Linked DNA regions of Homo sapiens. The protein of the gene in region 4 purifies or fractionates together with the protein of the main gene of each other region. This does not show direct contact. Each region holds a gene or a part of one and is shown on either strand. Other genes may lie near its edges. The genes, in order: MCM8, SENP1, HELLS, F9, LRP5, POGLUT1 and HOXD13.

Region 1 (4,528 bases), on a different chromosome or scaffold from region 4:
GGTACCACCGAGGAAACATTATACATCCATGGTAACAAGGGCTTAATTAATAAATGGTGTCAGGATAAATAGCTTTTCACCTAAAAATTAGATCACTAGTTTGTTTTTTTAAGAGATGGGGGTCTCACTATGCTGCCCAGGCTAGTCTCAAACTCCAGGGCTCAAGCGATCCTCCTGCCTCAGACTACTGAGTAGTTGGGACTACAGGCATATGCCACCATGCCCAGCTTAAATCCCTAGTTTTATGCCCTTCACCAATGGCTTAAATTCCAGATGGACAAAAGATCTAAAGATAAAAAACAAAACTTAGGATTCTTAGAAGCAATGTAGGAAATATGTTTATAATGCTTGAGTGAAAAGGGCTTCTTATTTATTTATGTATTTTTTGAGGCGGAGTTTCGCTCTTACTGCCCAAGCTGGAGTGCAATGGCGTGATCTCGGCTCACTGCAACCTCTGCCTCTTGGGTTCAAGCGATTCTCCGGCCTCAGCCTCCCGAGTAGCTTGGATTACAGGCATGTGCCACCACGTCTGGCTAATTTAGAATTTTTAGTAGAGATGGGGTCTCTCCCTGTTGGTCAGGCTGGTCTTCAACTCCTGACCTCAGGTGATCTGCCCGCCTCGGCCTCCCAAAGTGCTGAGATTACAGGCATGAGCCACCAAGCCCAGCCGAAGAACGGCTTCTTAAGCAGGGCATAAAATATACAAATTAGGGAGGAAAAGACAACAATTTGATCATGTCAAAATGTAAAACTGTACAACAAAAAAACCCACAAAGTTAAAAGACAAACCAAAGACTGGGAGAAAATATCTAATGTATATAATCAACAATAATTAGTATCTAGAATGTATAAAGAACTCCTATCAATAAACTAATAGAACCAGGCACAGTGGCTGGCACCTGTAGTCCCAACTACGTGGGAAGCTGAGATGGGAAGATCACCTGAGCCCAGGAGTTCAAGGTTGTAATGAGCTATGATCATGTCACTACACTCCAGCCTGGGCAACAGAATGAGACCCCATCTCTAAAAAACAAAATTAAAGAATAAACCAATAAACAGGAAAATGAACATTAGATATAAATAGAAAATTCGATAAAGAAACTGAATGGCCAGTAAAGATATGAAAAGATGCTCAACCACAACAGAAATCAGAAAAATTCACATTATAAATGCAGTATTATTTATACCTAACAAACTGTCAAAAATGTACAAGTCTAACAATACCAAGTGTTAATGAAAAGACAGAGAAATGGTAACTACTTAACACTACCAGCAAAGATTTAAGTTGGGAACAATACTCTGGAAAGTAATTTGGTAACATCTAATACAGTTAAAAATAAGTACAGCCGGCCAATCCCAGCACTCTGGGAGGCTGAGGCAGGCGGATCACCAGGTCAGGAGTTTGAGAACAGCCTGGCCAACATAGTGAAACCTTGTCTCTACCAAAAATACAAAAATTAGCCAGGCATGGTGGCGCGTGCCTGTAGTCCCAGCTACTCGAGAGGCTGAGGCAGGAGAACTGCTTGAACCCAGGAGGCGGAGGTTGCGGTGAGCCAAGATCGCGCCACTGCACTCCAGCCCGGGCAACAGAGCGAGACTCCGTCTCAAAAAAAAAAAAAAAAAAAAAAAAAAGTACAGCCTACAACTTAGTATTCCTCTGCTAAGGAGACATGTACAAGAATGTTCTCTGCAGTATCATTTGTTCTTATAAAAAACTGGAAAGAGCACAATTGTCTACCTCCAGGAAAATGGATAAATTGTGGCTATTTATTTAAAGCAACACTCCACAATAGTAAAAATGAAAGAATTTGATATGTATTAAAATAGGTAGAACTACAAAATAACCAAATAAAAAAACAGCTGCGTGTTACATTCAGGATACCATTTACGTAAACACAATACAAAAAACTAACTCTACACATGTAGTCAAGAATAAAAATGTAAACTTGAAGAATACATGCCAATTTCAGCATAGTGGTTGCATCTAGGGAGCAAATAAAGGGAATAAAACTGAGAACAGAAAGACTTCAACTTTATATAACCATATTTTTGTTACAAATTAAGCTAAAATAATATTAATATTTGCCAAATCATAGAGTAGATAAATGTTAATTACATTATTCTCTGCACTTTTCTATAGTTTTAAAATCCAGTTTAATAAAGGCTAATAAAGATTTAAAAAACCCATCACTTCTAAATAGTAGAAGAAATAAAGGGGAAAAAAAACTTGGTGTGTATACCTAGAAGTCAACAGAAATATGAATGGAAGGGATGCATATTATAATAACTTCAGGATAATGATCATCCCTGGGAATGGTATAGGTAAAAAACAGACACTAATTGTGCCAGTAATGCTTTATATCATTAAAAAATGTGTCCGGAGCTGAAAAATGTAAATTCGGGGTGATGAGTAGTGGAATGTTTTATTTATTTCTGTATTTTTCTTACCCTGAAGTATTTCATAATATAAAAGCAGAAAATTGAAAATAAAAAATAAAAATAAGCTCTGTGTTCAGAAACACTGGGAAATGTTTTCTGTATTCTGATTTGCCTTCTTTACCAAGATAAATAAAGAAGCAGTTAAAGAACGTATTACCTTTGTGGGAAGACTGTATTTTCCATCTGGAAGAGGAAAGCTCTGAATTTCTCCACATGCAGCACAAAGAAAAGCCATCTTGGTGCAAAGAGGCTTTATATTACTGACACGAACCACTGTCCCTCTTAGAGCAATGTATTTTCCATAGTAATTTGCTCTGACATTCTTGAGCTGTGTCAAAGGCTCATAGTTGTACACCCTAAAGACAAAACAGGAAGTAATGAACAGAAAATTGATGTTTTTTATATTTTCACAAGTTCCTTTTAGGAGCAACTATGGAATTCTCAAATCAAATCATCCCTTCGATATATCAGAAATATCACAAGAATTAAACCATTCTTGTTGTGTTTTGTTTTCTTGAGATGGAGTCTCGCTCTGTTGCCAGGCTGGAGTGCAGGGGTGCCATCTTGGCTCACTGCAACCACTGCCTCCCGGGTTCAAGTGATTCTCCTGCCTCAGTCTCCCGAGTAGCTGGGACTACAGGTGTGTGCCACCACACCCAGCTAATTTTTGTATTTTTAGTAGAGACAGGGTTTCACCATGTTGGCCAGGATGGTCTCGATCGCTTGACCTCGTGATCCGCCTGCCTCGGACTCCCAGTGCTGGGATTACAGGCATGAGCCACCGTGCCCAGCCAAACCATTCTTAACAAGAAACAACACTAAATCTTCCTTTTTCTTCTTGTCTCACAGGCTGTTCTCAAGGAAAAAAGAAAAAAGAAATTTAAGGAAAAAAATAATGCCAAAAGGAAAATCTACAGATTCAAAAACCTTTGGGTTTCTAAGTTCTTTTTAAAGAACTGCTAGGAAATTTTCTTCTATAAATTCTGGAAAAGAAAAACAAAATGCTGATGATTACCTTATAATGAATTCTTCTAATGAATTTAAAATCTTAAAGATGAATTCAAGAAAAACAAAATAATTTCATTATTCCCTTGTATCTAACAAAAACCTAATAATTTAACAAAGAACACTTAGTGTATTACAGACTGAGTATATCCCTTATCCAAAATGCCTGGGACCAGAAGTATTTTGGAATTTTTGGACTTCCAAATATTTGCAATATTACTAGTTGAGTATCTCTAATTCAAAAATCTGAAGTGCTCCAATGAACATTTCCTTTCAGTGTCGTGTCAGGGCTCAAAGTTTTGAATTTTGGAGCATTTCAGATTTCAGATTTTCAGATTAGGGATACTCAACCCATACATGGATTATTAAACTTACACAGCAGGGTCTTGATAAGTTCACATCCAAAACCAATGTTTACAAAAATCTGCAGGTTAGGAAATCAACATTTTCTTCCTTATTTAGGAAGTATCTGTCATGATGTCTTTGAATAATTTTCAATGAGTTTATTTCAGTGTGATGATCAATGAGATGGCAAGGAACTCATGTCCTTTTTACTGATTTCCTCATTTTTATAAAATGAGCGTTTTCATTCTTAAATGGCCTTCAATGTCCCATTCTAAGTAATACTTTAATACATCAAATTCCTCACCTTGCATGAATATGTGGCACATTTACCATTGTTTCTCCATCATTAGACAATCCTTCCTGGGCTTGTAACTCAGCTGCATGCCTTTCAAGGTCCTTAGTTAACACCTAAACAGGACAGACATTTACTCTGAAGTTGGAAAACAAAACATCCTCTTTATACAGAACTCTATTTTTATAGAGAATATAAAGTTTATGGACAGAAACAGAATAAAAACAGAAAACTTTAACAGCCCTTTAAATATCTAATATTTAATTATGACTACTTACTTTATAGTGGATGTTTTACATTGGATTTTGCTGTCCCTGTGCTGAAAAACTCCAGCATCCCAGTCTGCTACTTTCTGTCCCAACTAAACCTAACATTAAAAGCCCTTACATTAGTCCCCAAAACCATCACCTCTTGATACTAATTAAAAAAAAAAAAATGCATTCCTAT
Region 2 (3,370 bases), on a different chromosome or scaffold from region 4:
TTCCCATGGAATTCCAAGCTGTAGATGCATTGCTCCTGGGCGGGAAAATAAGGTACCCTTCCCAGTAGTTCAGCACGTGGCCTGTTTAACAATAGGGCCTAATAGCCTAACACCTCTTTTTCTGACTCTCTTGGGTATGTGAACTCCCAGGGTGAAAGCATCATATTCCACCTCATGCTAGTCCATCCAGGTGGACCAAACAAAAAGAAACCCCAGGTGTCAGTCCTCTCTCTTACTCCAGCAAGACATATTTAAAAGCTGGAGGGATGGCACAGGACCAGAAACTGAAACATTAAAAACATTGGGGCTCTCAAGTGAACTCTTCCCCCTTTACCCACTAGAGCCACTTAAGGGCCATGTAAAACCAGGCAGTAATGGACAGGCTATGAGATGGGGTTGGTGGAAGTGCTTTTCCAGGTTATCTCTGTTTCTACCTCAGGATCTTGGTGCTAACATTGCTGGGGGCAGTGGATAGAAGATGCTAGCATGATTACAGTGGCTAAAGAATACAGAAATTAATTCCACATAGAAGTATGAAGCATCTCATACAGAGGAGTCAATTGACACAAATTCCCCAGACTGGATGAGGGAAAAGTACTCTTATATTCAACCCTAAATAGGACTCCTGGGAGCAATGGTGGGTCCCAGGTGACAAATGGGATGTAACTAGCCTCTGTGCCTCAGACCATGTGTTTCTCAAATGGGTAAGAAAGGTCTGTCTGATATTCTCTGTTCAGGGTCTCGGAGTGATTCTTGGGATTATGGTTTCTGTTGAGGTCTCTATAGCTGGCATCTAGTGCTTATCATCCCTCAAATATTCCTTTTTTAGGGAAGGCAGGTGAATATGAGCAGTGGACACAGGAGAAAGGGGAACACAGGAGAAAAAAGTCTTATTTAGTTTAAAGTAAATTACATAAGATATTAATAACATGCCTTTGGGCCATAAAATGCAGAAATACCTTTTTTTTTTTCCTGGTCATCAAAGCCTACCCCTAAACAAAGGGGAAAGTTTCCAGATACTACTCCTGCTCTTGTTGGCTAGCTCAGGAAAGAATGGTCCACTGTGTAAGTCTGTATTTGGACCAGGTCCAGGGTGGTAAGATGGTCTCAGGGTCACTAACTTCTACCTTGTGCAAAACTGCATTAGTCAGAAAGGGGGCCCAAATTCAGACAGGCTCAACAATTCCTTATATATTTTTCAAAGTGCTTTTGTTGCATGTTTCATTTTCTGCTATACATGGCAATAAATATTTGTTGCTTTGGTCTGTACAAAGTCTGTGAGGAAGGTAAGACAGATGTTACCTAAATGGACAAACAATAAATACAGAGAACAATCTTGTTCTGAGTCCCCCAGACAATAGTGAAAGAACCTGAAAAAGGTCTTTTGATTCATAGTCCAAATCGACACCATATTGCCACCTTTCAAGTTGTTGCTTACATACAGTAAATACCAAGAACCAGACAATATTCCAGGAGTCCTGCAATGAGACTGCATGCCACAGCTTTCTAAAAGAGAATGTGAAGGTCCCCAGCAACTCATATATAGAAAGCTATTTATTTCCTATAGAAAACTCAAAAACAAAGAAAAAGAAAGAAAAATAAAGAGAGATAGAAAGAGAAAGGGAAAGAAAGAGAGAGAAAAAACAAACACACAAAAGGTGGTCTTTCCCCAAAAGGCAGGCAGTTGAAGGGAGGACATGTAGTTGCTGGAGTGGAAACAGTAACATTCAGTTAACAATGGAATATTTAAAAAAAATAGTTTTCTTTTCAAATTGTAACTTGTGGTAAAACATAGAAAAATGTACTAAACGAGCTTGTATAAAACAGTAAAATTTTCAAATAAGCCCAGGGAAAAAGCACAATGCTGGAAAGAATGCGGTACAACGGGAGAGGAGAAAAGATTTCATACAAAACTACCTATTACAATACAGAAAAAAGTATAAAATGTTCCTACTTTGGAACTTAAGTACAAAATGACACTGGCATTTGATCACTTCACTATCTAAGCCTGAGGAGCTCTCAGAGGGTGGGGAGAGATGCTAGAAAGAACAAAAGGAATAGCAGTTTTTAAATCTCAAGTTGATCAGTCCAAACTCCACCCGTTTTTTTTTTTAGCTGAAAATATCACCTCCCTCTGTAACCTCTACCCATATGGCAAAGTTCATCCAGGCCTCAAAAATATTCCATTAGGTAGTCCACAAACACCCTACTCATAGGGGCTGGGATCTCTGTGTGCTGGAATTTGGAAAATGGAAATAAATCTACAGGCTAAATGGTGAACACATTCAGTCTTTAAAAAAAAAAGCATATCCCTGTGAAATTTTATACATACATATATATATATATATATGTATGTGTATATATATATGTATATATATATGAAATTCTCTGTGGTTAGAAACATATTTAAACTAGCCACAGACCAAACTAGATCTGCATTCATCCAGCGCTGGAATTTTATGCTAAATACTAAGGTCCTTTTTCTTCTTGGTCAGAAGTAGGCAACAGTAAAAGTGGTGCTTTGTTGCGCCACTGAAACCGCTCCCTGGGTGGGTCTTCCCCGTATCATGTGTTGGTAGCACATGCAAACCCCTGCTTTCACGGAAAGGACTGCTTGGAACTTTGGGACCTGTCCAGGGCTCATGTGCTGTGCCTCCGGATAGGATGAAGCTACAGATGATAAAACAGCTACGTATAAAAGCAGATGGATTTTGTATAGGGACATATAAATAGGAAAGGTCCTGGAGGAAGGGACTTATGCCTGGGCCCCAAAGTCCAGTTTACAGTCACATTCCTGACCATACATCGTGAAAATTGTGTGTGTGTGTGTGTTTGTGTGTGTGGGTGTGTGTGTATGTCCATGTATATGCTGGTGGTTTTTATCCCTACCTTTTGCCCATGCCCTTTCCTACTTCTTAGTAAGGCCTAACAACAAGAATTTATATGAAACCAAGATTCTTTCCAAGCTTTTCTCAGTCCCATAATTAGGGACTGAGTGAGGCTGGAGCCCTTTGAAAACAAGATGGCAGAACTGAAGAAGTGAAAAGCAGTCTCTCTCTTCAGCTTAGGGATGTCCCTCACCCCTTTCACAGCACCAAAGTTTCTTTGCAAAAATAGTATCTGAGATACAAAAGGAAAGGCAGATGTGCTTGTGAATGCATCTCGCCAGGGCCTGGTCCAGGATCAAGGGTGTTACAACAGCAGAGGGCTGGGAGCAGCTGTTTCCAAGGTCTCTGGCTGTAGACAACAAAGAGCTGGTCCCCCACATGGTCAAGGTCTGCTAAGTGAGACAGTCTTCACAAGAGTTTTCGGTGGAGGATCTCCCAGACCATCCGCTTCCGGAAGTATGGCATGTGTTGCTGTAGGGACA
Region 3 (4,528 bases), on a different chromosome or scaffold from region 4:
GTGGCTAATCCTACAATCACAGCACTTTGGGAAGCTGAGGCAGGAGGATCACCTGAGTCCAGGTATCCAAGACAACCCTGGACAACATGGCGAAACCCTGTGTCTACTAAAAATACAAAAAATTAGCTGGGTGTGGTTGCACGCAACTGCCTGTATCCCAGCTACTCGGGAGGCTGAGGATCACTTAAACCCAGGAAGTCAAGGCTGCAGTGAGCCATGAACACAGCCACTGCACTCCAGCCTGGGTGACAGAAGACTCCATCTCAAAAAATAAAATAAAATAAAATAAAATAAAATATAAAAATCTGAGAATAACCCTTACAAATTAAAATCAGGCACATACTTTTGAAAAGATCATTAGAATTGTATCTCTCTTCCAAACTTCTAATATTGTGATACTCAATAATTTATTAAACTGTTACACAGAAAATACAGTACGCATAAATAAGACGGGCAAAAGATATTAACAGATACTTTACAAAAGAAAACATACAGGCCGGGCATGGTGGCTCACGCCTGTAATCCCAGCATTTTGGGAGGCCAAGGCAGGCAGATCATGAGGTCAAGTGATCAAAACCATCCTGGCCAAAATGGTGACACACTGTCTCTACTAAAAATACAAAAATTAGCTGAACATGGTGGCATGAGCCTGTTGTCCCAGCTACTTGGGAGGCTGAGGCAGGAGAATCGCTTGAACCTGGGAGGCAGAGTTTACAGTGAGCCGAGATCGTGCCATTGCACTCCAGCCTGGGCGACAGAGTGACACTCCATCTCAAAAAAGAAAAAAAAAGAAAGAAAACATAGTTATCAAAGAACATAAAAATATACTCTACTTCAGTAGTAATTAGGAAAATGCAAGTTAAAAACCACACAAGTTACCATTTCTCATCTAATAAAATGGCTGAAATTAAAAAGACTATCAAATGCTGACAATAATGTAAGCTGGAGTTTTCAAACATTGCTGGCGAGAGAATAAAATGATGTGTTTACTTTGGGGGGGAAAATCTGTACTTTCTTATGAACACACATTTGCCACGTAACACAACAATACCATTCCCAGGTACACAGGCAGAAAGTATGAAAACATGTCTACACATGGACTTGTGTGCAAATTATCATAGCAACCTTACTCATAAAAGTCACAAACTGCAAACAACCCAAATGCCCATCAATAAGGGGATGGATGAGAAAATTGTAACATTCATTCAACAGAATACTAGTCAATAAGAAGAAACCGGTTACTAATATGCTCAACAACATAAATGAGTATCACAGACATGTTGAGTGGAAAGGAAATAATAAGCCATCCTATAAAAGGTGTAAAAAGTGGCCTCCTCTGGGTTTGGGGGTGGAAAGACATAGAAGAGATCCCTTTACAATGGAAATGTTCTATACCTTGATTTGGATGGTGGTTACACAAGTGTATGCAAGTGTCGAAATTCATTAAAATACCATACTTAACAACTATTTCTTACTGACTGTAAGTTATAAAATGAAGCCAAAATCCCATAGTAAATTACAGAAGATTACATCTAGACTTTATCTTAAAAATCCAACTAAATGTTTATCTAACTAAATCTTTAAAAATCCAACTAAACTGCACCCATAAACCAGTCCTTAATAACTTAACAAAGAATAAAAACCAAGACACTTTTACAATATAAATTTTGGACAAAATTATATGACCAAATAGATTATCTCTCATTTTATAAACATAACATTAATTTCCCAAAGGCCTAAAAATCTTTAATATGTAAATTAACTACCTGAAGTTCATATCCATTCATGAATATTTTCATGTCATGATTATTTTGCTTCCCTAGGCAACCTTGTAATTTTAAGTACTTGAACAATAAAAAGTCAGATAACAAGGAACCTCTCTACATGAAATGGGCTAAGTGAAGAGGTGGCTCGGAAATCAAGCCTTCTCAAACAGAACTTTTAAGAAACTTAAAAAATCTTTAAGGTCTGAAGCAAGATTAAGGCATCCCTCACAGCTTCCATAAGATGATTCACGGTTTATATCCACATGGTTACGAGCACTTGTATCACTGCCAGATTCACAAGTTAAAAGCAACATTGCTAGACCCATAAATTAACATTTATACATCAAGAATCATGCAATAAAACAACTAACTAAAGTTGATACATAAAAAAGAAGAATGTTGGATATGGAAGAAGTGAATACATAGGTATTTTTTTTTAAAGCAAAGAAACAGGATAATAGTGAGAAGAACGTATACTGCTGATTAAAGAAAAAGGACTAGTAACTGAGGAGTAAATATGACTTCTAAACTTAATCTTACATTATAAATTTCTTACCTCATTCTCCTTTTTATTTTTTTTAGCCACAGACAAAATTTCCTAGTAGTTTGAGAAAACAAAAACAAATTAATAATGTATGAAGTTCATTTATTTATTTATTCAACAAGCATTTATTCTGTGCTCATTTTGCCAGGAAATGAGGATGAGATTCTCAAGATAAAACTAGTAGCCTTCAGGCAGAAATAAGCCTATAGACATTACTGGCTCATAATATTTCATAACATTCTAGGCTAATTTGGGAACACTTATACAATGGGATATTTCATCAAATACAGTGATTTTCCAGCTTTTCTTTCTTTTAATCTGAGTAGATTAAGTACAAATTCACACATGGCAACAAACCTCTAGTCCTGGGGTCAGCAAACTACAGCCTGTAGACCAACTCCAGCTAAGCGAATACACAGGTATTTTTTTAAAAGCAAAGAAATGGGATAAATTGGAACAAAGTCAGCCTCACTTGTTTACGGTTTGTCTATGGCTGCTTTCAAGCAACAACAGCAGAGTACAGGGTTGAGTAGTTGCCCACAAAACTACTCAAAAGCTAAAAATATTTACTATCTGGCTATTTACAGAAAAAGTTTGCCAAACCATGTTACAGCCCACTTTAGGCCTCTGTGGATAGACATCTGAGTTTGCATTCCTGGGTAAGAGGCAAAGACAGAAAAAATTAAAAATACAGAATAAAGTGCTCTGATTTTGAAGTACCTACTAGATGCTGCTGGTAGGGAGACAAACAATACCCGAGTATGTCACTGGATGACTTAGCAAATAATTATCTTACATAAAATTATCTAAAAAGTTGTCACCAGGCTTCATCATTCAAGATAGTGAGGGTAGATTTCAAGCAGAGAGAATATAGAAGGCATAGGGGATGAAGTAGATTCAAAACAGCAATATCAAATTTAAGATTCATAGAAGAGTAACAGGACATGTAAGTGGCTGACACACACACATATATATACATGGGAATATATGTATATCGTGTGTGTATGAAGTATTATGTATGTATAGATATTCATATTATAAGGCTGAGGCTAAAAGGATTTTATACCAGGAACTGATAAAAGCTGTCCTGTAAAATGACTAGATAAAATGAAACTTTTGAAAGAACAATTTGGAAATAAATCAAAATCTATAAATACCACCAATGAAGTATTCTTATTAAAAATCAAGCATGGGCAACATGGTGAGATCCCATCTCTACAAAAAATATAAATGTTGGCTGGGCTTGGTGGTACACGCCTGTAGTCCCAGCTACTCAGGAGGATGAGGTGGGAGGATTGCTTGAGCCCAGCAATCAGAGGTTCAATGAGCCGAGATGGCACCACTGCACTCCACCCTGGGCAACAGAGAAAGATCTTGTCTCCCAAAAAAAAATAAAAATAAAAAAAAAAATAAAAAAACACCTTAATCACAAACTTCCGTATTTAACTTATAGTTACTATAGTTAACAGGAAACACAAGAGGCAGAGAAATCATGGGGATACAATCAGTAAAGTCTAGAATGTGGGGAATTATACAGAATTACTCATTTTCTTCAACAAATAATGTTTCTTAAAAAAGATGAGAGACACTCTAGATCTAAAAGAGACCCAAGATACGCATTAATCAAACACAATTTATGTAACTTTTTCGGATCCTGATTTGAACCAACTATTTTTTTAAAATGTATGAGCTAAGCAGATCACAGCGGTAAGTGCCTATAGTCCCTGCACTACTACTCGGGACACTGAGGCAGGAGGATCATGTGAGCCCAGGTGTTTGAGGTGTAGTCACTATGACAATACTCAGGAATAGCCACTGCACTCCAGTCTCGTCAATACAGCAAGCCCCCATCCCTAAAAATAAAAATTAGCCTATTGAGAAATTTAAATATTAAGGAATTCCCATCGACTTTCAAAAGTGTGGTAACTGTATTGTGGTTATGGTTCTAAAAAATAGTCTTGGCCGGGCATGGTGGCTCAAGCCTGTAATCCCAGCACTTTGGGAGGCCAAGTCAGGCAAATCACAAGGTCAGGAGTTTGAGACCAGCCTGGCCAACATGGTGAAACCCTGTCTCTACTAAAAATACAAAAAATTAGCTGGGCGTGGTGGTGGGCACTTGTAATCCCAGCTACTTGGGAGGCTGAGACAGGAGACTCACTTGAACCCAAGAGGCAAAGGTTGTAGTGAGCCGAGATCATGCCACTGCACTCCAGCCCAG
Region 4 (5,245 bases):
ATTTATATAATGAAATGACTATTGTCACAATCAGGAATGACCTAAAGAATAATTTTGAGTTTATGTATTTACTGGCTGCTCTAAATAATTTCTAATTGTTGATCTCTCCCTTTTTAGGAAACTCTTTTTATAATAATCACTCTATTCTGGTTCCCCGCTTTGCTCTAACTCCTGTTATCCATCCAGCACTTGAATTGATTAACTCCTGTTCCTCTCCATGGCCCTTAAATGTCCAGGGTTCTCCCAGGCTCCAGCCTCAGCTTTTTCCTTTTTCACCTTATATATACTTGCTAGGGCTGGGACAAGAGTGAACCAAACAAGGCATGTAGGGCACAATATTTAAGAGGTCCTCACTTCTCGGGGCATACAAGTATATTTATGCCCTACAGGCCTTGCTTACCACAGTCTAGTCCGGCCCTGACCCTGTCAACAAAATTTACTGAGCATACAACCACTACTGCCAGGCACTGTACTAGGTATCACAATATCCATGCTCACTCTCCAGATGCCCACACACGTGGCTGTAACTACTGTTTACAGAACAATGAGTTCCAAATACTCACCTATAGTCAGATACGTCTCCTGAATTTCAGATTATCTTTCCAACTCCCTAACTGTATATCATAATGTAGCCAGTAATAGCTAATGTATATGTAATGCTTCTGCTGTGTTGGACACTGTGCTCAGTAACTTTGCATCCATTATCTCACTTCATCCTCACAAAAGTCCCACGAGATAGGCACTGTCATCTTATTTTTATGAATGAGGAAGATAGATTCATAGAGGCTAAGGGCTTTGCCCAAGGTAACATACTAAAACATTCAGGATTCAGACTCTGGCAGTCAGACTAAAGAGCCAGTTCTCTTAGACATTATTCTGTGGTCCATAATCACATCAAACACAAAGTCCCCAAGACTCTAGCCATTTCCCCTTCCATACCCAGATGGTTAAGTCATACCACTTCTACTTCCTTAATATCATTTGAACTCCCCTCTTTTTTTGTACTGCTACTGTTCAGGTTCTAGCCTTTATGTCTCCCGCAGATAATTGCAATAGTCTCAGGACTGCTCTCTCCTAGTCTTGGTACGGCCCCCTCCCCCACTATCATTTCATTAGCGTGTTGCCAGACTGGGCATCCTAAATCAGCCATCAGTGGTACTCCTTATGTTTATACTTCGATACCTCCATATTGCATTTTATTGTCCAATCTCCTTAGGTTAATGACTTCATTATCTGATGACCAGCTCTGCCTAGTTTACCTGTCTCACTTGTCATAGTCCATATGGAACCATACAAAACTCCTGAAATACCTCACGTTCTTGCAAATCTGAGTCTTTGCACGAGTGATCCTCTTTGCATAAAATGCCCTTATATCAGACATTTAAAGAGAGAGAACGCCTACTCATCTTTTAAGACCCAGATGAAAATATTCTCTCTCTATCAATTGTTTCCCCATTTAATGTGTTCCTTTCTCTATGATCCCTTAGTACCTAGTGCACATTTTATCACATTATATTGAAACCTCTCACCTGGCCTCATGCTGCTTTAGATCAAAGAGGGAGTCTGGTTTATCCCCATACCCCTAGTACCCTGACACAGTACCTGGCACCATAGTTGTAACTCAGTAATGTCTGAATGAAGGACATCTTTGATGCATACACTTTACAAAACTAAACTGGTTTTACAGAACTGTTTTAATTTCAAAATTCCAAACTGTTGCAATAATACCTAAAGGCAGCAGCCATGAAAATGCAACATCTCAGCAAATCACTCACCGAAACTCCTTTTAGAAGCCAATGAGAGTTTAATAGCAGAAGAGAGTGCTGCATTAATACTGTCTATCCTTAGAAAAATTCCCCTGGCCCCTTCCTCAAGGGCTTATTATCTCTGGCTACAATGGCTGCAGAATCACATTGCCTTTCTCCTTAGTATTATCTGGGGATCGTATACTTAACTTCCCTTCAGGTTTATCGCTAGTCATTATTTCCCAGGCTCCAAAAGCCTGGTTCATCCTTATTCTTATCTATCCTTTCCCCAGCATCTGAAGTCTTCAAGGGGGCAGAAGCCCTCTTACAACCTTCATCATCTCACCACTTATATAGAAGAAAGGGTTTGGATGCTTTGTCCTCCCAGATGTCACACTAATGAGATATATCTAATGGCCTTGCTTTATGTCCTGCTTTGTGAGTTTTCCAACAAATTTTCTTTATCCCTTGACTTTACTCACTTTGCTAGTTTAACCTCTGTATTTTTTTTTATCGTTATTTCAGCATTTCAGTCTGATTTCACAGCTGACATCATGTCTGGAGTGGGAACCACAGGGCCAGTCAGCTTTCTGGGGGTGCTTAGGGTTGGCACCCCTGATCCTGGTACTGTCAGCTACTAGATTTGATTCTAGAAAGTTGACAAGTAAGTGTGATAAATGCTTCCTGTGAGAACATGCTGTTTGTCCAAATGGGATAATTTCTTCCCTGTATGCCTTCCTCTGGGAAATACATAAAGTCACTGTAGTTGTGAAAAAACAAAGTGATATATGTTGCATTAGCTAACTTCCTACTCTTTATGTCAATTCTTAAGCTTGCTTTTCTCCCCTAGGGAACTCAACTGAGTATTGTGTTTCCCCAAATATCAACTCCAAGATGTTTGACATAGAGACAAAATGATTTTTTCCTAATCCATGAAAAGCTTTGGTGATAACTAACAGCTTGCTAATGAAAGGTTAATCTTTATGTTTTAACTAAAACTTTAAATTGAAGATATATAATTTAAAAAATTAGAGACACACCTCATTACATACTTCTGAAACCTTGAAATGTCATATATCTTAAAATCAGACTTTTTGTGTAAATAAGGCCATTGTTTGTGCTTTTGTTTCCCATTTTGATTTCAAAGTGGTAAGTCCAAACAAAAATAATGTGGTTATTTTTTTTCACTATATTCTGCTATTTCTTTGTTTTCCCACTTTTAATTTTTTTAAACCAAGGAGATGAATGTTTTCTAACAGGAATTACATGACCAAATCATGAACTGAACAGTGTTTATTAAACATAAATGCATCATAAGCATTGTCGATCTATTTAGTTTTAAAAATGAAGAAGAAGAAAACCTAGCTAACAAAGAACCAGTACTTACCAACCTGCGTGCTGGCTGTTAGACTCTTCAATATTGCTGTCAAATCATGTAATCAAAATTTAGTGAAGAAGACAGCATCAGATATTTCTATATCTAAAAGGCAAGCATACTCAATGTATTTTAAAAAAGGAAACAAACCTGTACATTCAGCACTGAGTAGATATCCTAAAAGGCAGATGGTGATGAGGCCTGGTGATTCTGCCATGATCATGTTCACGCGCTGCATAACCTTTGCTAGCAGATTGTGAAAGTGGTAAGGTCGATTAGTTGTACCAAAGTACAAGCTGAGCTGTATTTACTTCTGGGAAATAATGTCCATCTCCCTCAATGGGTCTTTGGACTATTTCCAATGGCCTCTTGGGACAAGTGAAGAGAATGGGCAGTGGTCATTATTAAATTTCACCTCTGATTTCGTGGGCTTCTGCCACTGTGGCTGATTTGAGTCTGAAACAGGAAGTGACACATCTTCAGAATGGAGATAGGCATAGTGGCTACATTTACTGTGGCAGCACAGTTCATCAGTGGGACCCACCGTATCTTTGTCAGAGAGCAATGATGTTTACCAAAATGGCTGTACCACTTTACATTTCCATCAGCAATGTATGAGTGGTCCAGTTAGTCTGATTTTTTTTTTTTACTGTCAGATTCTTAAGGTTGTTTATATATTCTAGATATGAGTCCTTTCATAGATACGTGGATTAAATATATTGTCTCCAGCCTGTAGCTTGTCTTTTGTCCTCTTAATTAGGTCTTTCACAGAGTAGAATTTTTTAGTTTTGATGTAGTCCAGTTTATTTGTTTTTGTTTTATGGATCACATTTAGAACTCTTCCACTAACACTAGATCCTGATGATTTTTTTCCTATTTTTTTCTAAATGTTTTACAGTTTGAAGTTTTAGATTTATGCCCATGCTCCATTTTGAGTTAATATTTGTGTAAAGTATGATGTTTAAGTCAAACTTCATTTTTTTTTCCATAGGTATGTCCAATTTATCCAGCACAATTTGTTAAAACAAAAAACAACAATACCACCCTATCCTTCCTCGATTGAATGGCTTCTGAAATTTTTTCGTAAGTCAGTTAACCATATTGTTTTGGGTCTACTTCCAGTTTCTCTATCTATTCTTTGTGCCATTGATGTATTTATCCCTCTGCCAATATAACACTGTCATAATTACTGTAGCTATGTAGTAAGACTTTATATTAGGTAGAGTGATTCCTCCAACTTTATTCTTCTTTTGGTAAGATATTTTTAACTGTTCTAAGGGCTTGTATAAATTTTAGAATGATCTTTTTTTTATTATTATACTTTAAGTTTTAGGGTACATGTGCACAACGAGCAGGTTTGTTACATATGTATACATGTGCCATGTTGGTGTGCTGTACCCATTAACTCGTCATTTAGCATTAGGTATATCCCCTAATGCTATCCCTCCCCTCACCCCCCACCCCACAACAGGCCCCGGTGTGTGATGTTCCCCTTCCTGTGTCCAAGTGTTCTCATTGTTCAGTTCCCACCTATGAGTGAGAACATGCGGTGTTTGGTTTTTTGTCCTTGCGATAGTTTGCTGAGAATGATGGTTTCTAGCTTCATCCATGTCCCTACAAAGGACATGAACTCATTTTCTTTTTATGGCTGCCTAGTATTCCATGGTGTATATGTGCCACATTTTCTTAATCCAGTCTATCATTGTTGGACATTTGGGTTGGTTCCAAGTCATTGCTATTGTGAAAAGTGCCGCAATAAACATACGTGTGCATGTGTCTTTATAGCAGCATGATTTATAATACTTTGGGTATATACCCAATAATGGGATGGCTGGGTCAGATGGTATTTCTAGGTCTAGATCCCTGAGGAATCGCCACACTGACTTCCACAATGGTTGAACTAGTTTACAGTCCCACCAACAGTGTCAAAGTGTTCCTATTTCTCCACATCCTCTCCAGCACCTGTTGCTTCCTGAGTTTTTGATGATCGCCATTCTAACTTGTGTGAGATGGTATCTCATTGTGGTTTTGATTTGCATTTCTCTGATGGCCGGTGATGCTGAGCATTTTTTCATGTGTCTGTTGGCTGCATAAATGTCTTCTTTTGAGAAGTGTCTGTTCATAT
Region 5 (3,500 bases), on a different chromosome or scaffold from region 4:
TGGAGGGACTTGGACAACCCGAGGTCGCTGGCCCTGGATCCCACCAAGGGGTAAGTGTTTGCCTGTCCCGTGCGTCCTTGTGTTCACCTCGTATGAGACAGTGCGGGGGTGCCAACTGGGCAAGGTGGCAGGCTGTCCGTGTGGCCCTCGGTGATTAGAGCTGTACTGACGTCATTAGCCTTGATGGTGGCCAGGACTGGTAGGGCCCTCAGAGGTCATGGAGTTCCTTCGTGGAGCGGGTGCTGAGGCTGTATCAGGCACAGTGCTGGCTGCTTTCACCTGGGCCGTCTCACCGAAGTGTCCATGGAGCCTGCGTAGGGTGGGTATCTGTGTCGATTTTACAGATGCAGAAACAGGCTCAGAGAAACCGAGTGACTTCCCTAAGGTCACATACCCAGTTAGAGCAGAGCTGGGCCAGGAAGTGCTGTCTCAGGCTCCTGACCAGGTCTCCTTGCTTTGCACTCTTGCCAAAACCATGATCCAGAACTGACTTTGAGGTCCCCGGACCTCAGGCTCCTCCGAAATGGCCTCTTGGAGGCTGCTGAGCCACAGCTTAGGACCCACCTCGAGAGGCAAATGTGCTTTGAGCTGCCAGGCGTCCTGGGGGCCCTGCCTTGGGCACGGGGTTCAGACAGGCCCCAGATGTGTGGGGCGTCTTTCTGGACTTGAGTTTTCTTTTCTGTGTGGTGGACACAGTGCTCACCCCTTAAAGCACCTGTGATGTGTGCAGCAGCCCAATCCCTGCCTGTCGCCTGTTCTGCTAGGGAAGGAAGGAAGACTTCAGGATGGCAGGACAACAGAAAGAGGTCCAGGTTTTAGAGCAAGGGCAGGTCAAACTTAGAAAATTCTGGAATGAGGATGTGCATTTCCTCTTCTGGATCTGCTAAAAGAAGAGGGAAGGAGGGGCTGCTGGGGGAGGAGCCCAGAGCCGAGTTTACATCCGGATCCCGCAAGGCCTCCCCTGCCCTGAGGTCTTGTTTTGTGATGTGCTTGTGTCCATCCTGGTTTCTGCCGTGTCCCCAACATCCGGCCAAGCTTAGGTGGATGTTCCAGCACACACTCACCCTGTCTGTGCATCTGTTTTTGTGTCCGTAAGTGGGTATTTACTCGCCTTACGAGTGAGCCACTGTGGGAATTCAGGGAGGTGGCGCAGTGACCACCCCTGGAGGGATATGTGTGTGGCAGGGGTCGAGGGTCTCGCCCTTCCCTGCTTCCTGCGCGTGGCTTTCTCCAGGACGGGGAGGGCTGAGCTGAAGAGGTGGGGACAGTTGCGTCCCCCCGCCACCCACTGTCCTGCGGTGAGAGCAGACTCACTGAGCCTGCCCTTCTCCCTTGTGCCTTCCAGCTACATCTACTGGACCGAGTGGGGCGGCAAGCCGAGGATCGTGCGGGCCTTCATGGACGGGACCAACTGCATGACGCTGGTGGACAAGGTGGGCCGGGCCAACGACCTCACCATTGACTACGCTGACCAGCGCCTCTACTGGACCGACCTGGACACCAACATGATCGAGTCGTCCAACATGCTGGGTGAGGGCCGGGCTGGGGCCTTCTGGTCATGGAGGGCGGGGCAGCCGGGCGTTGGCCACCTCCCAGCCTCGCCGCACATACCCTGTGGCCTGCAAGTTCCCCAACCTGGCAGGAGCTGTGGCCACACCCACGACTGCCCAGCAGCCTCACCCTCTGCTGTGGGAGTTGTCCCCGTCCACCCCTGGGTGCCTTTGCTGCAGTTATGTCGGGAGAGGCTCTGGTGACAGCTGTTTCCTGTGCACCTGCTGGGCACTAGGTCCCAGCTAATCCCTGTGCCAGGACTCTAATTTCACCCTAACACACATGGTGGTTTTCATTGCTGGGGAAGCTGAGGCCTGAGCACATGACTTGCCTTAGGTCACATAGCTGGTGAGTTCAGGATCCCCCAGAGATACCAGGGCCAGCACTCGATCCCCACCCAGCCCTGAACCCCACCATGTGCTGGGATTGTGCTGGGAGTGTCCACACGCCCGGGACCCCAGGGCTGGTGCTCTCATCTCCTTTTTCCAGATCATGAGAATGAGGCTCAGGGAAGTTTGAAAAAAACCTATCCCAAGTCACACAGCAACAGGAGCAGGATTTGAACCCAGAAAAGGGGACCGCACACTCTGTTCTGCTAGAGTAGTTAGCTGTCCTGGGTGATATGGCAGGTGACAGGGGCAACTGTGCTTAACAAAGGAACCCCCATCCCCCCTGCCAAGTTGGGAGACTAGAAGGTCAGGGGCAGAAGCTCTGAAGGGCCAGGTGCAGTGGCTGACACCTCTAATCCCAGCACTTTGTGAGGCCAAGGCGGGCAGATGATTTGAGCCCAGGAGTTCAAGATCAGCCTGGGTAATGTAGTGAGACGCCATCTCTACAAAAAAATTTTTTAAAAATTAGCTGGGCATGGTGGTTCATGCCTGTAGTCCAAGCTACTTGGGAGGCTCAGGTGGGAGGATTGCTTGAGCCCAGGAGGTTGAGGTTGTGGTGAGCTGTGATCATGCCACTGCACTCCAGCCTGGGCAATAGAGTGAGACCGTCTCCAAAAAAAAAAAAAGAAGAAGAAAAAGAAGCTCTGAGGCTCCAAGTCCCCAGGCACCCCTTGGCTTGAGGGCAGACAAGGGAGGAGAGGGTCACCTGGGCAGCCCTGACTTTTGTCCCCTGGCAAAGGGACCTTCAGTGACCTTGGCCCTAGGAGAGCCTCTGAGCACGTCAGCCATGTCGAACCGCTCAGGAAGGGCAGCAAGAATTTGGCTTCTGACCTCTGCCTCTCCTACTCGCCATCTGCACTGGGTGTGGTTGTGCCCATTTTACAGATGAGGAGGCTGGGGCATCGACCAGCTGAATGCCTTGTCCCAGGTACTGCGTAGGCAGAGCTGGCAGTTGAACCCCGTGTCCTGGTTGTCGCTGGGGGTGGGCTGCACCCTGACTTGTGAGGCCAGTAGCAAGGTTTGCACGTGACTTCGTGACCGTCACCCAGCTCTGCAGCACATCCCGTGACCCAGCTCATCCAGGCCGCATGCAAACCTGTTGCCAGGCGAGAAACCAGTCACCGCACAGCTGTGGTTGCCTGAAATGATTAAGCTCATTAATCACCCCGGAGTGAGGACAGACTCAGATGAAAACCAGCAAAAGCCCTGGAAACTCATGTGACCCTGCCAATGAGGGCGGCCATGTGCATTGCAGCCTGGCCGTCACTCCTCGGTACGTGTTTTGGACTTAAACGCTCCGGATGTTTACTGAGTGCTTGATTAATAACATGGAAGGCCTGGTCTCATTGCTGTGGGAGTGAAGGATGCACAGCCAGGCCTGACATGATGAGAACAAGAACCTGGAGTCTCGCTGCCTGGGTGGTAATCCTGGCCCTGCCACTTAGCAACTGTGTGACTGTAGCCAGGTCACTTAATTTTGCTAGATCCTGCCTGCGCTTCAGTGGATCTTGCTGGTTTTCCAAGGTGGCCAAACACTTTAAGGCATTCATGTGGTCGCTA
Region 6 (4,528 bases), on a different chromosome or scaffold from region 4:
TGAGGCATCATGGATTCCTTGATAATCTGTTAAGAACTATGAACCAACCCTCTCTCCTTCCCAGAAAAATGCACATATCCTCACATAATTTCAAGGGAGTCCTAAAACTCTTGAAGTCCAGACATGGTCCCCAAGTTAATTTGTGACTTCAAGATTTAAGAATCAGAGAAGTTGGTAAGAAACAGGACATAGTAGCTGGATAATCCATTTACCTCCTAAAGTCTAGCTCCGAAGTGAAGAGGAGGGTGAAGAGGGAGTATAATCTCTGGCAAGGACTCACTTGCTAAAACTACAAAACCCTGCTCCCTTCATGGTCTTTTCTATTCATCTGCTCCACAGATATTTATCATATATTGACATGCTAGGAACTGTTCTTGGCCTTGGGACTATGGAGCTGAACAACACAGGGTCCTCCTACTACCTTTGCCATTTTTCTCTTCTCTTTCCTCCCTGCTCCCTTCTTCATTTTCAGCAGTCTCAGTCTGTGCTCTTAACCACTATTTGGCAGCCACAGGGTGTGATAAAAAAGGCAGTCAAGAGATATGGTGATGAGTCCTGCTCTGCATTAACCAGCAGAGTACCGTGGCATGATCATAAGCTACTCCTAGGGACTGTAAGAAGACACCCATCTGTTGTGTTTGGCATCACATAATCAATGACCGACACATTTGTGACACTATGTAAAATATCTGTTAAATGACTGAAATGGATGAACTTTACTTCTTTGAATATCAACTCAATCAATGGCGATTTCGGCAAATAATGTGAATTATTCTCGAATCTAAAATTGTGATTCCACATTTCTTTCTTTGTTATCTTAGCTTTCCCTTTGAACTACAGAGCTTGTCATACCCTCAAAGTTACTTACATTTTACATTACTTGGAAGAATATCTTTGTAAAATGTCAGAAAATAACTCACCTTGATCCTCGGAAATATGCTGTAGAGTTTTTCTTTTTCCATGGCCACTGTGCTGCTGACCTAAGAATATAGAATTTAATTAGTTTCAATATATCTTTTTCAACTATATAAGAATGTGCTTTAACCATTTCTGAAGATTAGTTCAGAGCTTCATATTTCTTTTTTTTTTTTGAGACGGAGTCTCGCACTGTCGTCCAGGCTGGAGTGCAGTGGCGCGATCTTGGCTGACTGCAAGCTCCCCTTCCTGGGTTCATGCCATTCTCCTGCCTCAGCCTCCTGAGTAGCTGGGACCACAGGCGCCCGCCACCACGCCCGGCTAATTTTGTGTATTTTTTAGTAGAGACAGGGTTTCACCGTGTTAGCCAGGATGGTCTCTATCTCCTGACTTCGTGATCCGCCTGCCTCGGCCTCCCAAAGTGCTGGGATTACAGGCGTGAGCCACTGTGCCTGGCCAGAGCTTCATATTTCTAAGTAAGTCTAATCAAAGTCACTCAAAAGAAAAAGCCCTAAAGGACACTTTGTTTCCTTTTGCTACCATTTCATTGCTCTGGAGGTGCTACCCAGTTGTATCTACAAATCTACTCCCCATTAACAAGTTAACAACATTGAAAGAAAAGCCCCCAAACCCTGAAGGTCATGATTAGGTCTGTTTATAATTTGGCAAATGTGGATTTCCTCTGTACTTTAAGTAGGGTGCTACTGATGAAATTAATTATGTGTACAGAACTGCAAAAAAATAAAAAAGCATCAGAAATGGAATGAAAGGGAAATCACTCTCTGATTTTATGTTTTCCATAGGTGGGAAGTGTCATCAGATTTAGTTTGATATTTGAAAAGCACCTTTGTATTCTTAAAGCCAGACTAAGTGCTCTATAAAGATGAAGTCCTTGAAAGTCAGATCTCAGTACACATTACCATGACCAGCCTTCCTTACTGAAACTGCTAGCTCACAGATGCATCATTCTTAACTTGCTTCGTAGGAACCCTCCCTGCACAGAAGTCTGCACAGCATCTTCTCTGAAAAAGGAAGGGAAGGCTGAACTGAAGTTAATGAGGGATTGATGGGCTGGATTACAGTAACGGAGAAACTTAGGATATAAACTTTCTAGGCACAGGTCCTTTTCAGATACATATAATGTCATGCTGCTCATTTTCACTCAGCTGAGAACGCTGCTCAGTATTTTCCAGGCCCTCAGACCTCCACCCTCAGCCAACGTGGCTCATCCTCTGGCCTTTTCTGGATGGATCACCTTTACCTGATTCTCCAGTCTAAGGCCAGAACTATCTTGTTTTCCCCATACTTCTTCCTGCCCAAGCAGAGACACTATAGCACTGGATTTTTGTTGTTTTGTTTTTAGTGGAAAATGTTTCATGCTCCTCATGCAAAGTTCTCATGAAAAAGCATAAAGATAAAAGTAAGAAGTCGTCTGGAATCTCCCTGTCCAGAGGTAACAATGTAACATTTTAGCCGAGAATTTCCTTGCAATCATTTATTCATATTAGTAGCTTTCAACTGGGGGTAATTTTGCCCGTCCCTCCCACCCAGGGGACATTTGGCCATGTCTGTAGACATTTTTGATTGTTACTACTAGGGGACTGCTACTGGCATTTAGTGGGTAAAGATCAGAAATGCTGCTGAACAATCCTACAGTGGTTAGGACAGCTCCCAGGACAAAGAATTATCCAGCCCCAAATGTCAGCAACACTAGTACTGAGAAACTTTGCTCTATGTAACAGAGGTCACACCATACATACTGTTAGGTAACAATCTTAATAGGAAATATAAATAATAATAACAGCCAACATCTATATAGCACTTCACTATGTTACAGACATTGTTTTAAGTGCTTTGTAAATAAAAAATCATTCTCACAATCTTAAGAGGTAGGTTTTATCACCCCTATTTTACAAATGAGGTCCTTTAGAGGTTAAGCAACTTGCACAGAGTCATGCAGCTAATAAGAGCCAGGATTTGAACCCAGAGTTTTTAAAACCTACACTGCCTTTCCATTCATGCACGATATTCCATTTTATAATCTCTGGCAAAGACTCACTGCAAAAATTCCATTTTATAGTCATGTTATGATTCACTTCATCCTTTATTGATGGACTTTTAGGTAGTTTCCAACTTTCTGCTCTAAGAAACAACATGGTAGTAAACATCCTTGTACACAAATCTTTGCACATTCATCTGATTAATTCCTTAGGATACATTCTAGACATGAAACAGCTAGGTCAAAGGATACACAGTATACATTTCCAATTTTGATACATATTGTCAAACTATCTAACAAAACATGTATCAATTTATACTCAAAGTTACTTCTCTTTATTTCCTTGGCTCCTGGGGAAGCTGTGTTTCATATACACAAACCCAAACTGTGTATCACTGTTCTCTCTCTTTCATTCTCCTAACCTACCCATCCTCCCTCAAAAGACCTAGGTTAGGACTTGTTTCTCCAGGCAAGTGCTAACGGTGGCCACCACAGCCTGGTGCTACCCCAGCCCTCTTTTTTAAACCCTCTCTGACAGTAACAAATGAAATCTTCGATCTGTAAAGAACAATGAATTCTTCTACAGAGTGAAATATAAATCAGTGGGCACAAACTCCCAAAATATCAGAAAAATAGAATGAACAGTGGCAGGCAGACATCAGTGCAGATGGATAAACAAGCAGATTATTAAATTTTCAAGGTAACAAATGAACATCATTAGAGATTCTAAACAGAGGGTTCTAAAAAACAAAATTGTATTTCTATAACCATGAATAAATTCAATTGAATAAAATGGGAAGGTATCAAAAGAAAAAAGTATTCATATAAGATTAGACTTTAAAACATTCTATCTGCCTAAAAATTGCTTACTAGTTTACCTGGGGGAAAATGGTATTAATAACTACACGGTGGAGTAACTGGATAACACCTTGACCCCAGGAGTTTGAGTCCAGCCTGGGCAACATAGTGAGATCCTGCCTTTTAAAAATAAACAAACAAACAAATAAATAAAGTGACTCTTTCATATGTACTGACATGAAACAAAGACATGGAAAGATTACTTAGATACACCAATAAGTTAGGGGGAAAGTTGCCTGAGTTATACATATTTGTAAAATTTTATGAGCATATATAGGTTTCATAATCAGTAAAAATGTTTTTAAAGATTTTGAAAACAAAGCAGCTGCATGGCAGGTGGGAAAAGAGCTACAAAAAGAAGAATGTGAAAAGGGTATTTGCAAGTACCTGAGGAGGGGGGGAAAGGATTAGAAAATTAAGGCCAAGGCCAAGAATAACTTAGGGAAAAAAAAGTTTAAAACCTTTTTTCCAGCTTAGTGTGGTGGCTCATGCCTGTAATCCCAGCACTTTGGAGGCCAAGGTGGGAGGATCACTTGAGCCCAGGAGTTTGAGATCAGGCTGGGAAACATAGCAAGACCTGTCTCTACAAAAAATTTTAAAAAACAACCAAGAAACAAAAAAACCACACCTTTTTCCCCCCCTCTCAAAATTATGTTCAAAACCCAAAAATAAACAAGAAATGACAGTCTCAATGTCAGGAAAACACAAGGAATATTAACCAGTAAAGTAGGTTGGATAATGCACTTGGAAACCTGG
Region 7 (5,098 bases), on a different chromosome or scaffold from region 4:
AAAAGTGATTTTTAAATGTCTGAAGCACTGCCCATGTATCCCAGCTCACAGACATTGCATTTACAAAAATAATCTCTCAATTGTATAAATATGCAGCACTTTAAAAGTAATTATTTATCATCACTTTCAGAAACATCATTATTTTTCTTCTTGGACCTTGGAACTTCACATTTTTCATATTTGTTAGATGCTTTACAGCTCCATGCGAGGCCCCCTTGTTTAGACAGTCAAGTTCTTCATTGGGTTCTGTATGTAAGTTCCCACCCACGGCCACATTGATTCAGCCTCTTTTTGAGGATTGAGGAGATGACCACAATCCCAGACCCATAGATCCAAGGCCAAGAAAAGGAGGTGCATTTATGCCATCCGCGGGTCACTCTACTGATTGCAGCCATTTAAATGTCTGCATTGAGAGCTCAAGAAATGAAGGCATCCACGATCCATGAGGACACATGAGTTTCAAATTAAAGATTATGAAAACACAAACCTACAAAGTGTTAAAAACAAACAATTAAAACAGCAAGTGAAACACCCAAAGTTGGAAAGATTGTCTTCATTTCAATATTGATACAATCCCTATTTAATAAGGTGGCCATTTTTAAAGCCATCACAGTACCTTCAGCCTCCTGTTTTTAGACTTTCTCGGTGACCCCAGAGCACTGCCTGCCTTTCCACTTGCCTCAGGGCAACTGCTGAGAGCTAATGATTCAATTACCTAATTACAGGATATGAACGACTGAAAACCATTCTGTCCTAATGGATTATGAAGATAATCAGTGCTGGGAATGAACAAATAAAGTAATTTTTTAAAAAAACCCTTAAATCAGAATGGCACTTCTGAAGTTCATTGGGGGGCGGATTATTAAAAAATACTTCAAGTCCCTTTATACTGGCCTGGAGGGAGAAACAAAACATTAAAAACAGATATTTTAAAAACCCTAGGCAAGAACAAAACCAATAATAAACAAGTAAAAATCAGAACTACAAAGTCAGGTTGGGCAGCAGAAGGTTTTAGAGCCAGATAAGGGGAAGAGAGAAAAACAATTCACAAAATTTGCCACCATTGGCAGGGGGTGGGGGGAATTAAATACATATTCAAGTCTTTCCAAAGGCCTTTTGGAGACAACCGAATGGCTTCTAAGCTGTCTGTGGCCAACCTGGACCACATCAGGAGACAGTATCTTTGAGCTTGGAGACAATTTTCTTGTCCTTCACTCTTCGGTTCTGAAACCAAATGGTCACTTGTCTCTCAGATAGGTTCGTAGCAGCCGAGATACGCCGCCGCTTGTCCTTGTTAATGAATTTGTTAATGGCATACTCGTTCTCCAGTTCTTTAAGCTGCAGTTTGGTGTAAGGCACTCTCTTCTTCCTCCCTCTTCGGTAGACGCACATGTCCGGCTGATTTAGAGCCACATCCCCTGATACAAACAAAAGCACAAGAAAAATTAGGCTGGGATATTCGGAGCACCTAGCTGAGGATTGTGTGTGTGTGTGTGTGTGTGTGTGTGTGTGCGTTTGCAGGGGTGCAGGAAATTTTTAAAAAATGCCATGCTGTTTGGTCTTTATTATGTACATAGACATAACACTTACCTGTTATTAAAGAAGGATTATTTGCACTTAACAACAATGGTTAATTTGATTGATTATCATAGTTTCTCAAACCGGCATCTTAACAAGCTTGCAATTTTATGGTGTGGTTATTGGGCACGTTCATGAGGACAGTTTCTGCAAATGTCGGTTGTATAAAAACAAACTTACATACATAGACACATACCAACTCAGGTCTTTTGCTCAAATTTTGATTTCCCGCGTTCCTATGTTAGGAGTTCGTGAGCTTGATCTAACAAGCTTTAGTAGTCATCTTGGGGCAGTGATGTCTTTGAAAATGGGGGGACCCAACTCTGTCAGGTTTCTTAGGAAAAAGTTCTCTTTAGGAGAAAAGGGAGAGGCCCAAGGAAAGGGCACGCAGAGACTCTCAACTTTAGGAGAAAAACGTGTCTGCGCTGCACACAGGAAAGAAAGGGCAGTGACGGAGGCAGTTGAAATCAGAGGAGGAATTTACAGATTTCACACGAACTGGACAAATTTCCACTGGGTTAACCCTGGTCACGTGTGGAGCACAGGCACAACTCCCACTCCCAAGTAGGGGCGCATACTCTTAGTCCTTTCTTTTCTCCTTCTCTCTCCCCCTCCCTCGTGTCGGTCCCTTTTCTCCATCGCCCCTACCTGGAAAGGAAGATTTCCAAAAGTGGGACCCCTGTGGCTGGTCCTTGGTGCAGTACACCTGGCTGTTCCACCCGTTAGCCAGCGTCCAGGACTGGTACCCCTCCATGGAGATGTAGGCCTCGTGCCGAGGCTCCCCGGAGCCGAAAGTGGACACCATGTCGATATAGCCGGGCACGTGCTGGTAAGGGCTCGTATAGCCCTGGTAGAAGGATACCTCCTTGGCTCGCGCTGGCACCTCGTTGGCCGGTACGCTGCTGCTCGCCAGGCCTGACACGTCCATGTACTTCTCCACGGGAAAGCCTCCCAGCGAGGCGTGCGGCGATGACTTGAGCGCATTCTGCTGTAAGCCCACGCCGTGCGACATACGGCAGCTGTAGTAGCCGTTGCCGAAGTGGTAGCCGTAGCCCAGCGCTGGAGCGCTCGGGGGCGCTGCAGCGGCCGCTGCAGGCGTGGGTGCTGGGCACTCTTTGGCTGGGGGAGCCTCCGGGCGCGCCGCTACAACGGCAGAAGAGGACGACGACGAGGAAGAGCCCGTGCGCTCAGAGGTCCCGGGGTACGCAAAGCCGGAGGCTGCCGCCGCCGCCGCCGCAGCCGCCGCTGCCGCCGCCGCCGCCCGCCCCGAATGCGTCCCGGCGAACACAGGCGCGGAGAGAAAGCCGCGGCACTGGCCTGACGCCGCCGCCGCCGCCACCGATGAGGAGGAGGAAGAGGCCGGGGCGCCACCGGCGCCCCCGCCGTCTGCCCGCAGCCCGTCCATGTCCCAGCTCCCGGCGCGGCTCATGGCCCGGCCTGGCCCGGCCCCGGCCCTGGCCCTGGCCCCGCGCAGGACACCATGGCGCGGCGCGCCTCCTCCCTCCTCTCCTTTCTCTCTGGTTCGCTCGCTCCCGCCCTCTTCCTCTAGCCCTCTCTCCCTCTGTGAGCCTCCCGCCTCCGGCCCGCCTGCCCTCCAACAGGTTAGCTCATCGCGGGACGTTTATAAAAACGAAGTTCAGGTTGGGAGGGGGCCTGGGCCGGTCGGGGGGCCGCCTCCCGCCCCGAGGGCCCCCGCCGGGGGCGTGCCATTGGCTGCGCGCGGCCACGTGGGGGTAGGAACGCGGGGGAGCCTGGCTCCCGGCCCAGGCCTGGCTGGACCCACCCACTCCGGCCCCCACCCCTCTCCTGCCCCTTGCAGGGTCCACCTCCCATTCCCGCCCTCCCCCCCGACCCAGGCGTACGCGCTGCAGCCACCCCCACGAGTTGATTGCGCGACGGCCCATCCCAGGCCCTGTCTGCGACTGAGGCGGGCGCCAAGGCCTGCGCCTTGTCTCGGCAACCGCTGTTTTTGCCACCTCTCCTCGGCTCCCCGAGTTGCACAGCAAAATGAAGACGAAGGACAGAGATGATCAGAATGATGTGAAAACAGGCCCATTTTTTTATCCTGTTGCTGAATCCCTCAGTTAGTCGACTTCTAGACCCCAAATCCGAGTGAGCTAATTTGCCCTACCTTGTGCACTGGTACCCGGCAAAGGCATTTCACACAGGTAAGAGGCATTGGAGCAGACCCTTCCTATACACACACGCTGTCCGTTCGGAAAATGCCCATGAAGCGCCCTTGGGGCTGGCGGCAGAGACTTAAACAGATGAAAGACAGGCATCGGCGCAGTGAGCCTGACAATCTGTCCCAGAAAGAAAAGTCCATGGATGCCTACTCAACGCTCTTCGCCTCTACTCTTGGGCCAGCCGGGAGTGCTTCCGACCTGGGCCTCTCAGCTCCCGCGGGTCCTTCTTCGACCCGCAGAAAGACCCTGAGAACGGCGCCGGGGGAGAAAGCCACTCAGCCTCCCACCGTGAAACTTCTGTGTCTCTCCAGCAGCCGACCGGCCTCGCATTTTGCAGTCACCACCCACTCCCGCCCGTTTCTCACACCAAATTAATTGAAAACTTCACTTTCCCAGGGACCTTTGTTTCGCTTCCTTTTCCAAGCTGTCAACTGCAGAGAACTGAGAGGGGCAAATTAAGAGGGCGCTTGTTCCAAGCAAATTCGGATTTTGTGATAGGAGCAGCCCAGAGAAACGGTCTGACTTCAAGGGGTTAGGTGGGCTCAGGGCAGTGCTGGTGGGGCTAGGTCCAGCTCTGGAACCAAGCTGCCAGGGTGTTAGGGATTACAGCCCTGTCCCTCATCATCCCTTTCTGTTGCTCCTCAGCCTCAGAGCTCCAGCCCACCATCCCTCAATCTCAGCAACTAATGGGGCACCAATGAGAGTCCTGCTGTGACTTTGGGGCTCTGCCTTAGGAACAATATTAGATCCAATGAGCCCAGGGTTCTGGGGGTGGATATGGGATCCTTCAGAGCCCATTTGGTTCTGTGGCATGCACTCCCCAAGCCAGCCCATCTCCAAGAAAATCACTCCCCTAAGCCTGTGATTGGTGAAAGCTTGTCACCCAGCACCACTGTTCCCCGACCAAAGATGCCCTGAGTAAGATGAGGAAGAGAGCCAGGAAGGCCCTCCTTGGCCTGGCCTGGCATTTCAGGGTAGGCTGCTGGTGTTAGGAGTGTTGACATGCAAAACGCAGTAACCATAAAAGGCTCAAATAAAGGGGAAAGTTATGAGAGGGGTGTTGGAAAGGAAAAGCAAGAGAATTCGTTTCATCGTTTTGAAGTTCTAGACATGTTCATGATCAAATTTGAGATGGGAGGGGCCTGAATTTACAGGAAATCATAGGGAATAGAAGTTTGCTGATGAGAAAATTTTTTTCACTATTTGGGAAAAGAAGGCAAAAGTCAGCAATGAAAGTTCAACCAGCATTTTAAAAAGGCCAACTGTGGCGAGGCGACAGGATTGCTAACTTTTAAAGAGGGTTTGGCTGGGTCTTTATGAAACAATTTTGGTAC

What was found.
Region 1: the proteins of F9 (region 4) and MCM8 purify together in Homo sapiens (affinity purification with mass spectrometry; 2 studies listed by BioGRID and IntAct, with this or other methods). This does not show direct contact.
Region 2: the proteins of F9 (region 4) and SENP1 purify together in Homo sapiens (affinity purification with mass spectrometry; 2 studies listed by BioGRID and IntAct, with this or other methods). This does not show direct contact.
Region 3: the proteins of F9 (region 4) and HELLS purify together in Homo sapiens (affinity purification with mass spectrometry; 2 studies listed by BioGRID and IntAct, with this or other methods). This does not show direct contact.
Region 5: the proteins of F9 (region 4) and LRP5 purify together in Homo sapiens (affinity purification with mass spectrometry; 2 studies listed by BioGRID and IntAct, with this or other methods). This does not show direct contact.
Region 6: the proteins of F9 (region 4) and POGLUT1 purify together in Homo sapiens (affinity purification with mass spectrometry; 2 studies listed by BioGRID and IntAct, with this or other methods). This does not show direct contact.
Region 7: the proteins of F9 (region 4) and HOXD13 purify together in Homo sapiens (affinity purification with mass spectrometry; 2 studies listed by BioGRID and IntAct, with this or other methods). This does not show direct contact.

What each region holds. Positions count from the first base shown.
Region 1 is NC_000020.11:5,956,795-5,961,322, reverse strand, and holds part of MCM8 (DNA helicase MCM8), read right to left. Parts: intron 4,198-4,528; coding exon 4,094-4,197; intron 2,796-4,093; coding exon 2,597-2,795; intron 1-2,596. UniProt on the Homo sapiens protein: Component of the MCM8-MCM9 complex, a complex involved in the repair of double-stranded DNA breaks (DBSs) and DNA interstrand cross-links (ICLs) by homologous recombination (HR).
Region 2 is NC_000012.12:48,042,026-48,045,395, forward strand, and holds the end of SENP1 (sentrin-specific protease 1), read right to left. Parts: intron 3,360-3,370; coding exon 3,297-3,359; 3' UTR 872-3,296; downstream 1-871. UniProt on the Homo sapiens protein: Protease that catalyzes two essential functions in the SUMO pathway.
Region 3 is NC_000010.11:94,569,224-94,573,751, reverse strand, and holds part of HELLS (lymphoid-specific helicase), read right to left. Parts: exon of another isoform or gene 2,365-4,528; coding exon 2,323-2,364; exon of another isoform or gene 1-2,322. UniProt on the Homo sapiens protein: Plays an essential role in normal development and survival. Involved in regulation of the expansion or survival of lymphoid cells. Required for de novo or maintenance DNA methylation. May control silencing of the imprinted CDKN1C gene through DNA methylation.
Region 4 is NC_000023.11:139,528,878-139,534,122, reverse strand, and holds the start of F9 (coagulation factor IX isoform 1 preproprotein), read right to left. Parts: upstream 3,385-5,245; 5' UTR 3,359-3,384; coding exon 3,271-3,358; intron 1-3,270. UniProt on the Homo sapiens protein: Factor IX is a vitamin K-dependent plasma protein that participates in the intrinsic pathway of blood coagulation by converting factor X to its active form in the presence of Ca(2+) ions, phospholipids, and factor VIIIa.
Region 5 is NC_000011.10:68,410,091-68,413,590, forward strand, and holds part of LRP5 (low-density lipoprotein receptor-related protein 5 isoform 1 precursor), read left to right. Parts: coding exon 1-50; intron 51-1,345; coding exon 1,346-1,530; intron 1,531-2,989; exon of another isoform or gene 2,990-3,170; coding exon of another isoform or gene 3,171-3,213; intron 3,214-3,500. UniProt on the Homo sapiens protein: Acts as a coreceptor with members of the frizzled family of seven-transmembrane spanning receptors to transduce signal by Wnt proteins.
Region 6 is NC_000003.12:119,481,780-119,486,307, reverse strand, and holds part of POGLUT1 (protein O-glucosyltransferase 1 precursor), read right to left. Parts: intron 981-4,528; coding exon 921-980; intron 1-920. UniProt on the Homo sapiens protein: Dual specificity glycosyltransferase that catalyzes the transfer of glucose and xylose from UDP-glucose and UDP-xylose, respectively, to a serine residue found in the consensus sequence of C-X-S-X-P-C.
Region 7 is NC_000002.12:176,090,800-176,095,897, reverse strand, and holds the start of HOXD13 (homeobox protein Hox-D13), read right to left. Parts: upstream 3,178-5,098; 5' UTR 3,008-3,177; coding exon 2,227-3,007; intron 1,419-2,226; coding exon 1,168-1,418; 3' UTR 1-1,167. UniProt on the Homo sapiens protein: Sequence-specific transcription factor that binds gene promoters and activates their transcription. Part of a developmental regulatory system that provides cells with specific positional identities on the anterior-posterior axis.